Homo sapiens: one gene and its partner. The protein of the gene in region 1 interacts with the protein of each later gene in a biochemical or structural test. Each region holds a gene or a part of one and is shown on either strand. Other genes may lie near its edges.

Region 1 (3,100 bases):
GCTTTGGAATTTGAGACCAGCCTGAGCAACACAGTGAAACCCCATTTCTATTAAAAATACAAAACTTAGCCGGATTCGGTGATAGGTGCCTGTAATCCCAGCTACTTGAGAGGCTGAGGGACGAGAACCGTTTGAGCCTGGGAGGCAGAGGTGACAGTGAACTGATATCCAGAGTGAAACCCTGTCGAAAGAAAAAAAAAAAAAGAAAGAAAAAGAAAGAAAAAAGAAAAAGGAAGAAAGTAGAAAGAGAAAAGGAAAAAAGAAAACAAAGAAAAAACGTGTTAAGTGCCTGTGTTAAAAAGTTTACCCTGACTCTTGGTGGCTCTGCGTGACTAGAAAGCCCCGAGCCATGGGCCCAGCATGGTCAGCTGCAGGTCTGTGCCAGACAAAGGGCAGCATCCAGGCACTGGCAGTCGGGATTAAGACCGAGAAGTAAGGGTGGCTTAGGGAATAGAGCTGTATTTATTTAAGGACTAGGCAAAGATCCAAACCACTTTAAAAAATTTTAAATCAAACACTTTATTTCCACATAACAAGCGCAAAAAACTCCCAAACACTTTAACAATACAATTAACGCAGTTATGAATTATATACTACTCAAAGCCCCAAGGTCAGAAGGTCAATCAGCTTAACGCTCCAAACATTTCCAGACATGGTTTTTCAAAGCTACCTTTGGTTTTTGGAAAAACCAGTATGGAAGTCAATATACATTGAACGCACTGAATAACATTTGCTTATAGTAAGGTGTCCGACAACATTAGCTCACACCTGGCAAGTTGGAGCATGATCTGAAGTCATACACTGAAATCCATACACAGGTTTCGCCCCCGAGCTCCTGCAGGGAGAAGCGAGGGCCGTGAAGGGGGAAGAAAAGGCCAGTCCGGGTGTGGCGTTTCTCGCTTTGTAACAGAGGTATGAGAGTTTAACACTAGTACACTGTCAAGTCATTAAGCTTCATGTTCCACATGGTTTCTTGCTGAGGCTTGAGATGGGCACAAATGGTGGGGAAGATGAAGTCACAGAAGAGTTTTGAGCAACAAGATCCCAAAGATGCTCAGAGAGGGTGGGAAGGAGCAAGCTACAGTTTCCCATTGTTCTCACATTATTTCAGGGTGAAATTGTGATGAGTTCAGATAAAATGTTCAAATATTTGCTTAGATTTTTAATCGGTTGCTCTATGAGAACCCTCATACATAGCAACTTTGAAACTTTCATTATAAAAAAGAGCCTACAAATAAATTCACAAAAAGGAGACAATTAATGTTGAGCAGCCAAAAAGTCATGGTTTATTATATCTGAAGAAATTTCATAATTCAAACACAACCAAACTGTACATTTTACAATCACATTCTATTTGTAAACAGTTAAAAGCCACTGACTTCTTTTGCATCTTAGGACACAAACAGTTAGAATCAAGGCAATGATATGATGGCAAATTCTGTACTGTTAAAATTTTTACCCTTGTTTAGTCTCTCTTCTTTGACTAAGCAAGCATTATAATACCATTTGTGGGCAAAAAAAGGGGGGAGGAAAGAAAGTTTAAAATGGTGTAACTCGTTAGTTTGCAACAACATTTAAAATTTTCTTTATACAACAAACAACTCTGTAAGCCCAATACCTTGGTTACAGTATGCATAGTTACTGATTTCGGCTTTAAGGTACAACAGTTAAACATTAACACAGTCACGAGAGAGCAGAAACATATGGAGCCACTTGATGGGATTACAAAAAATTATTACCTATTGATTATTAGCAAACCATCATCACTCACTAATAAAAAGACAGCATCTGAAAGCAGAATGTCAAACTCCAGCTTTAAGCGTTTTTTTGTTTTTTCTTTTTTTTTGGCAGAGAAAATTCTTTAACAGAGCAATATGTAGTATCAGTGCTAAAAGTTGGGGTTTTTCTTTTTTTCCTCTAAGAAACTACAAGGAATTTTTTTTTTTTTTTTTAAACTGGGGAACTGGTTTTCCTGAGAACCATGCTCTTTGATTTGGGACAGGAATAGAAAAACAAAAGAACATGGCCAAATGCTGCTCCTTTTTCCCAGAGATAGAAAGCATCTTTTAAATCATCCTCCATTTTTTTTTTGTCTTTTACATTTTTTTTAAATGATGGAAGAGTAAACATTTTTTTTTCTCAAAAAACAAACAAAAAAATCTGTAAACAAGAAGGTTCAAAGTGAGAACCTCCAAAACAAAATGGAAAGCCTATTCAAAGTGCAGGGCCCGTCCTGGGTGGCAGGTGGGCTGCAAGTCACAGCTGTGGCCACAGTTTTTCAAACTGCAGAGCGAAATTCTTTAGTTTTACAACATGAAAAAACTGGTGCAACACTTTCATTAATAATCCTAAGTCAGCATCCTAACTTGATCTTTTAAACTCCACGATACCACAATAAGGTAGGCAACATCAAGGCATAGTAGAGAGCGCACGCCTCCTAAGAACACCCTTGAGTAAACATTGACACTGGGACAGCTGCCCCCCATACTGCCGATGAGACGGAGAGAACATCATTCAGTGCAAAGGGAAAAGCTCATACGTTATCAGCCCAAAAAATGGTTTTGCAAGAGAGAAAAAAAGGGGCGGGGGGGGGGGTTGGGGAGGAATAGAAGGAAAAAAAAAAAAAGAATCCAAAGGCTAAACATGATGAATAGACACAAGCGAGCTCATTCTCTACGGTTTAGCATGTATGGCGCTATTTGGGAGTGTAAATAGAGTAGATACCTTTTCACATTATAATATTGGCCTGCATGATTCAAGTATTCAAACTGATATGTTTTGGGGAAAACAAAGTGGAAAATGTGCAGAGAATAGCTGTTCCCACAGGCGGCCCCTGGCTGCAGGCGGCGAGCCCCACTTAGTGCTCCTTTCCCTCGCGTCTGAGGTCCCGGTCGGTGAGTCTGCATCTACACTGTTACATGGACTCTCCACCCCCACCCAGGTGGTCAACAGAAAGAAAAGCGTTAATGGGAGATGGGCTGCTAATTCCTCGGGGGTCGCTGCTGCTTGGGGGACCCCACAGGCTTGTGGAATAATGCGGGGTCCCCCAGAGTGAAGTGCCGTGAAGGTCTCCACAGTTAGTTCCCGACAGCCCAGCACC
Region 2 (7,554 bases), on another chromosome or scaffold:
ATATTTTCAGTAGAGACGGGGGTTTCACCATGTTGGCCAGGTTGGTCTTGAATTCCTGACCTCAGGTGATCCGCCTGCTTCGGCCTCCCAAAGTGCTGGGATTACAGGTGTGAGTCACCATGCCCAGCCAGCATTTTTCTTAACAGTACTAATCAACACCTGATGTATTGTAATGTTTTTCTGTTTACTGCTTATTCCAAACCTAGACCTTAGGGCAAGGTCTGACACCTAGCATGTGGCTCAAAAAAACACTGGTTGAATGAATAAATGTCTACCTCTTCCAGTCCGGTAAATCCTAATTGCTTGTAGTTCCTGAATTTTGTACTCAGCAAGCTTTGTAGTATCTTGGGAATCTTTGTTTATCCTATGCTAAGACGCCTTTTCCCATCTTTCTCACCTGATTTCTACTCATGTTGCAAGACTCAGTTCAAGGGTTACTTCCTCCTCGATGCCCTTTCTGACTATTCTCCATCCTGTCCAGCATCCAGTACAGATTTTCACACTGGCGCTTAGTACCATGAAATTATCTGGTTTTGTATATGTTTTTTACCTCACTGTCCTGTAAACTCCTTGAGGGCAAGGATTATGTTTTATTTAGCTTTATTCACAGTGCCTAGCATAGCAGTAGACACTGCCTATTAAACTGAATGAATCACACACAAAAATTCATCCCTTCTAATGGAAAAACAATTCATGACCAAAGAAGTCAATCAGTAAATGAAGGACAGCGTTTTTTTTTTTTTTGTTTTTTGTTTTTTTTTGAGACGGAGTCTCGCTCTGTCACCCAGGCTGGAGTGCAGTGGCGTGATCTCGGCTCACTGCAACCTCTGCCTCCCAGGTTCAAGCGATTCTCCTGCCTCAGCCTTCCGAGTAGCTGGGACTACAGGCGCCTGCCACCATGCCCAGCTAATTTTTTGCATTTTTAGTAGAGACAGGGTTTCACCATGTTAGCCAGGATGGTCTCGATCTCCTGACCTCGTGATCCGCCTGCCTCAGCCTCCCAAAGTGCTGGGATTACAGGAGTGAGCCACCGGTCCCGGCCGGACAGCACAGTATTTCTTACAAAGTCTTTGGGCACCATAGCATATTGGCAATACGGGTACAGATTTTAAAAAATTAAGATTGATAACTGCTCTGAGAGATATTAAAATCAGCCAGAGAAGACAAAATGATTCAATGGAAGATATGCAGAATCATTCATTAAATATTCTATAATAATAAAAATAGAAAACACAGGTGGGGCAACAGCAATTGAGATTAGATTTGGATGGCTACAGACTAAGTGATGGGTACAACTATCAAGATAAATCAAAACACTGGATGGGCAATTGTGACAAAAGTGGGATGCTGGCCAGGTGCCGTGGCTCACACCTGTAACCCCAGCACTTTGGCAGCTCTATGCAGGAGGACCATTTGAGCTCAGGAGTTTGAGACAAGCCTGGGCAACATAGTAAGACTAAAAAATTTTTTAAAAATTAGCTGGTCTTGGTTGCGCATGCCTGTAGTCCCAGCTACTTGAGATGCTAAAGTGGGAGGATTGTGTGAGCCCAGGAGATTGAGGCTGCAGTGAGCCATGATCACATTACGCCATTGCACTCTGGCCTAGGCGACAGAGCAAGACCCTGTCTCGAAAAAAAAAAAAAAAAAAAGGGATGCCTCCTGAGAAAGAATATGTCATTTACTCCTAGATCCTAGATTCTCCCTTTATCCCTCCAACCAGACCCAGCTGTCTCATCACTACAACTCCTCGGTACTGGCTATCTGCAAAGCAGCTTCCTTGGGTTAAGACCAGATAAAGACCTTCAACATCTTTCAACCCTCACAAAGGGGTACAGTTCTTACCCCGTGGCTCCCCACCCACAGCATCTCCTCGTGCAAGTCAAAGTGGGAGACGGAAACAGGTACACCCACTTCAGCCACCACGCTGTGCAATTCAGAGTAGACACCTTCCATTATGTGCACTGATTCCTGGACGGGAAGAGCCTCCAAGGCCACTCCCTCTGGGTCCAGCTCCACATTCTGTAGCAGACTTGGGTTCAGGTGGGCATCCAAGACAGGGTCCAGGGCAGAATGCATGGCTGGGGCATATTCTGCCAGTCCAGGGTCCAGACCCTCAAAGTTCATGATGACGATGGCAGCTTACACCTGTGTCACACCCTCCCTTACCACAGTCCCTTTAGATGCCTGACCCAACCTTCAGCAAGACAGCACCGATGGGCCTAGAATGGACATCCTGGCCTGTAAGGGGAAAGAGGTAGCTGAGTCAAGGGTAGGCCCAGGTACTGGTACTTAGGGTCTTCTAGGTTATGGGGGCAGGAGGGAGATGAGGCAGGCATGAGGGATGAGACTGCCAGCCAAAGGATGAAGCAGGCGGGGGAGGGATGGGCAGTGGGGGTGGAGGTGGTAGAACTGTTGTCCCTATCCCTCCTCCGCTAGGCCCTCTGTACTCTCCACCACCCCATTATCTAACCTAATCCTTGACTTCCCTTTCTTCTCACTTCGGACTGCTCACTTGCCTTGTTCAGCCCTGAATCATCAGGTGAAGGGAGCGAGAATTGCGGGGGTTGGAGTTAGGTAGAGGGATTTAAGGTGCTTTCTCCCAGAATTGGGGGTGAAAACGGGTGGATTGGACGGTGGGGAGAACGAGAAGTCAGTTTCCTAGAATCCTCTCCAATAGCTACCCAGGATTCTCTAGAGGAAAACAATAATGGCCAGTTACCCACAATTGGGGCGGGGGCAGGGGAAGGTGACGGAAACGGCTAGTTACCCAGAATTCTCTGGGGGAACCAGAAAAATCGGTTATCTAGAATTCTCCCACGGCAGCGGTGAGGAGGGGGATAGGGCAAGGGTCAGATGTGTTCCTGGGATGCTTACGGGGAATGGGTCATTACCAAGATTTCTCCATGGCGGATATTTTGGAGCGCGTGGAATTAGAACGAGTAGGGGGAGCGCAAGCGCTGTCAGCTCCGCGGGAAATTCCAGTTTCCCCAGTTCTCCCCCACGCCTAGGGCTCAACCTAACCACTACGGCGCCAAGGACCGGGGTCCGAGGCGCTTCTTCCAATCAAGAAGGGCTCGGGGCATATTTTAGCCAATCAGAAGGGCTCCGGGCGCATCTAAGCCAATCAGAAGGAGCCAGGTACGGCGACCCCAGGAGAGAGCGTGTGACGCACGCGCCGGAAAAAGAGGTTACGGGGCGCCGGTGGGACAAACGCAGCCAGACGCCGGACTTGTTGGGTGGCGTTAGAAAGTAACTCTGTTTTTAGTCTTCTTGAACAAAATTACGTCTAGGTTTGAAAACCAAACTTTTATGCTTTCTATAACTTTAGGAACTCTAAAATAAGGGACACACAAGGCAAAGCACTAGGAGTCGCTGTTGGGTATTCCCAGCGGGGCTTAGTCTACCTCCTCTTCCTGCGGTGCCCTAGTGAGCCACTCCGCCACCTCTGACCCTGTTGCCCCCAAAACTCGCTGGCATTTCCTATTATTTCCAGATATGGGAGAGAAAAAAAAGGAAGCGGGAGCCGGACTCCTGACACAGTCCAAGTGGCTGCATCTTCTACAGGCATCCATCTGAAACTCCCATCCGTGATTGTTCCCTCCCCAGAGACCCCGGTAACATTCCCGGGTAACAAGATGCCCCTGGTTATCAAATTCCCCTAGCTCTTGAGGCTGGCTGGACGTTATCCCTCAGAGGGGGATGAGCATGGCAAATTGGGACTTGTTATTCTGAAGGATTCGTGGGTCCTGTGAACTCTAATTACTTTGAAATGGGTCTAGGTTGTGAGATGTCTCAGAGCACTTTAGCTCAGCTGTTATTACTGTTTCTAAAGGCCACATAAAGGGACTCTGATGGGAGACATTCCTCATGGAGGATTCAATTCTATAACATTTCTCTCAATAAAGGCTGGTAAATAGACCTTCATTAAAGGAACCAAGAATTTAAATTTCTAGGACTCAGAGGGGTGGGGTCCTATACCCAGTCAGAGATCCTACCTAGAGCCTAGACCAAGAGAAAAACACAGATGGTCTCTCAAACTGATTTGATCTGACTTCGCAGGTCATTAGATATAGAATCTCCGAAAAAGGTGGATGCTGAGAGACATAGACAGTTCCTACACTTTAAGAAATCTCCATCTTGAGGTCTCAAATTGAGAAAGACTTAACAGACCCATGAGAGTTACAGATCCCTAATAACCTGGGCTAAATAATCCATGTCTGCCGGGCGCAGTGGCTCACGCCTGTAATCCCAGCACTTTGGGAGGCCGAGGTGGGCGGATCACCTGAGGTCGGGAGTTCGAGACCAACCTGACCAATATGGAGAAACCCCGTCTCCACTAAAAATACAAAATTAGCCGGGCCTGGTGACGGGAGCCTGTAATCCCAGCTACTTGGGAGGCTGAGGCAGGAGAATCATTTGAACCTGGGAGGCGGAGGTTGCAGTGAGCCGAGATGGCACCATTGCACTCCAGCCTGGTCAGTAAGAGCGAAACTCCGTCTCAAAAAAAAGAAAAAAAAAAAGAAAAGAAAAAAGGATACTGTGAGGAGACACAAGAGCATCCATGACATAGATTATTTAGCTCAGCTGTAATTACTGTTTCTAATACAGTAATATTAGATGGTGATCTGCCTGCCTCGGCCTCCCAAAGTTCTGGGATTACAGGTGTGAGCCACCGCGCCCAGCCTTTTTTTTTTTTTTTTTTTGAGACAGGATCTCACTCTGTTGCCCATGCTTAAGCGCATTGGCCCTCTCACTCACTGTAGCCTCAACCTCCTGGGCTCAAGCGATCCTCCCACTTCAGCCTCCCAACTAGCTGTAACTACAGGCACTGGCCACCAAACCCAGATAATTTTTTTTTTCCTGTAGAGGTGGGGTTTTGCCACGTTACCCAGGCTGGTCTTGAACTCTTAAGCTCAAGCGATCCTCCTGCCTCGGCCCCCCAAAGTTCTGGGATTACAGGCATGAGCCACCATACCTGGCGTACAGTATCCAGTGTAATGCAGTGATTAAAAATTCAGGATCCAGACCGGGATGGTGGCTTGTGCCTGTAGTCCCAGGGGTGGAGGTTGCAGTGAACGGAAATGGTGCCACTGCATTCCAGCCTGGGTGACAGAGTGAGACCCTGTCTCAACAAAACCCCCCAAAAACCAAGAACAAAAAAGAATGCAGGATCTGATGCTAGATTGTCTGCATTAGAACTCTAGCCACTTAAGCTGGGTGTGGTGGCTCATGCCTGTAATCCCAGCACTTTTGGAGGCCGCAGGCGGGTGGATCACCTGAGATTGGGAGTTCAAGACCAGCCTGACCAACATGGAGAAACCCTGTTTCTACTAAAAATACAAAATTAGCCACCGGGCATGGTGGTGCATGCCTGTAATCCCAGCTACTTGGGAGGCTGAGGCAGGAGAATCACTTGAACCCGGGAGGCAGAGGTTACGGTGAGATGAGATGGCACCATTGCACTCCAGCCTGGGCAACAAGAGCGAAACTCCATCTCAAAAAAAAAAAAAAAAAAAAAGGAATTCTAGCCACTTAGAAGCTCTGTGATCTTGGGCAAATTGCTTATCTTTGCACCTCAGCCTCCTCCTCTGTAATATAGGGTAATAGTATCTACCTTAAAGGGTTGTTGTGAAAATTAAATAGTTTAGTACATGTAAAGTGCTTAGACAAAGTATTTGGCATTAAGCGAGAGTTGGATATATTAGCCATCATTATTAACCACCTGGGGGAACTTCAACTGATTTGGAGTCTAGGCATACAACTGGAAAGACCTGCCTAGGAGTGTCTTGTGAATGCGATTTGCATAACGGTTTAGGCCCAGCTGACGTCAAGGGCTCCTTATAGCTCCAGGTCAGTTGTAGCCCTGGATGTAGTTCCTGCCACGCAACAGTCCCACAATCTCCCCACCAACCCTTCTTCCTACCCAACTCCTGCAGCACCAGGAAGTGAAACAAAGAGGCAGAGCCCTGTGCCTCCAACTCACCCTTGTCCCTCTCATCCCATCCCCCAGGCTCTACTTCCTCCTCCTTTTCATCTTTCTTTCATCTCTTATCTTTTAGGGCTCCCAGAATGGGGACCAGAGATGGGAAGAACATAGGAGACGTTGTACACAAGTAAGGTGAACTCCCTATCCTGCCCCCTCCCCTTTCCTTATTCCATTGGTGTCCACCTTATTAGGGAGAGAGGCAAAACAGTTCTCACCCAAACTCAGATAATTCTCTGATGCTGGAAATGTTTAATCTAAAGGGTAGATTTCCATTTTTTTTTTTTTTTTTTTGAGACAGAGTCTTGCTCTGTCACCCAGGCTGGAGTGCAGTGGCGCCATCTCGGCTCACTGCAACCTCTGCCTCCTGGCTTCAAGCGATTCTCTTGCCTCAGCCTCCCGAGTAGCTGGGACTATAGGCGCCCACCACCGTGCTGGCTCATTTTTGTATTTTTAGTAGAGACAGGATTTCACCATGATGGCCAGGCTGGTCTCGAACTCCTGACCTCATGATCCGCCTGCCTCGGCCTCCCAAAGTACTGGGATTACAGGCGTGAGCCACTGTACCCGGCCCTTGGTAGATTTAACTTAGAATCGTAATATTTTTTTTTCTTCTCTTAGCTCATACCTACAGAATCATAATATTTGAACCAGAAGTGTCATTGGGCAGTTTTGAATAGCTCTAAGGGAAGGGAGACCTCCATTCAGGACAAGTTTCTCAGAAGAAAAGGGTCAACCTCTTGGGGGAGGCTTTGGGAGCCAGCTGTGTGGTCACCGATGGCCTCATTCTGACGTCTTCGAAATTGTTCTGGGACCCTCCACTGGGGTCGGGGCAGTCCCGGCTTTGGACCACCTTCCACTCCCACGCCCAACCTCACACTCTTAGCTGTTTCACTCGATGTTGCATCATGGAGGGTGATGAAATCGGTGTCAGTGGATTTTACCCATGGATGCAACAAGCTGAAGGACCAGCCAGAGTCATTGACAGTGCACCTTCGACTACCCAGAACTCCTGGGCTTCCTAGCCATGGGGTCCAAAGCTGGGACTGCCCCGACCCCAGTGGAGGGTCCCAGAACAATTTGGATGACGTCAGAATGAGGCCATGGGACTAGGTGCTGGAATGTCTAAGTTGAACTTCCAGGCCTTATTTGCACTAGTCCTGAAAAAAACATCATCCAACTCTTATAGAGCCTATGAAATCTTGGGCCACTAGGGTTGAGGAGTCAGGTGGTTCTTAGTCAATAACCCTCTTCCCACAAGAGCCTTTCTAACCTCCACTGTGAGGCCTGAAATGGGGAGCAATAAGACCTCATACTGGCTTCCCAGTTCTCCAAGTTCCTTCATGCGCATTCTCTCCCATGAAACCAGGACCATCCAGTTGAAATAATGTTGTTTCCAACTGAGAAAAAGAAGCCCGTTTATTCCTAATAGGGGGCATCAGGTAGGAATCAAACTTCATTGCAAACAGCTCACCATCCTATTGGGAGATGAATGGATGTTTCTCTGTTTTGCTTTTTCCTCAAGCAGGAGGAAGTGAGGAAATTAGGTTTGGGGTGGGGTAGGGGTATAG

What was found. The genes of interacting proteins can lie anywhere in the genome.
Region 2: the proteins of TNRC6A (region 1) and PAN2 form a complex in vitro, tested with the Homo sapiens proteins (one study listed by BioGRID).

What each region holds. Positions count from the first base shown.
Region 1 is NC_000016.10:24,823,622-24,826,721, reverse strand, and holds the end of TNRC6A (trinucleotide repeat-containing gene 6A protein), read right to left. Parts: coding exon 2,915-3,100; 3' UTR 504-2,914; downstream 1-503.
Region 2 is NC_000012.12:56,330,971-56,338,524, forward strand, and holds the start of PAN2 (PAN2-PAN3 deadenylation complex catalytic subunit PAN2), read right to left. Parts: upstream 3,031-7,554; 5' UTR 2,892-3,030; intron 2,749-2,891; exon of another isoform or gene 2,517-2,748; intron 2,239-2,516; 5' UTR 2,125-2,238; coding exon 1,843-2,124; intron 1-1,842. UniProt on the Homo sapiens protein: Catalytic subunit of the poly(A)-nuclease (PAN) deadenylation complex, one of two cytoplasmic mRNA deadenylases involved in general and miRNA-mediated mRNA turnover.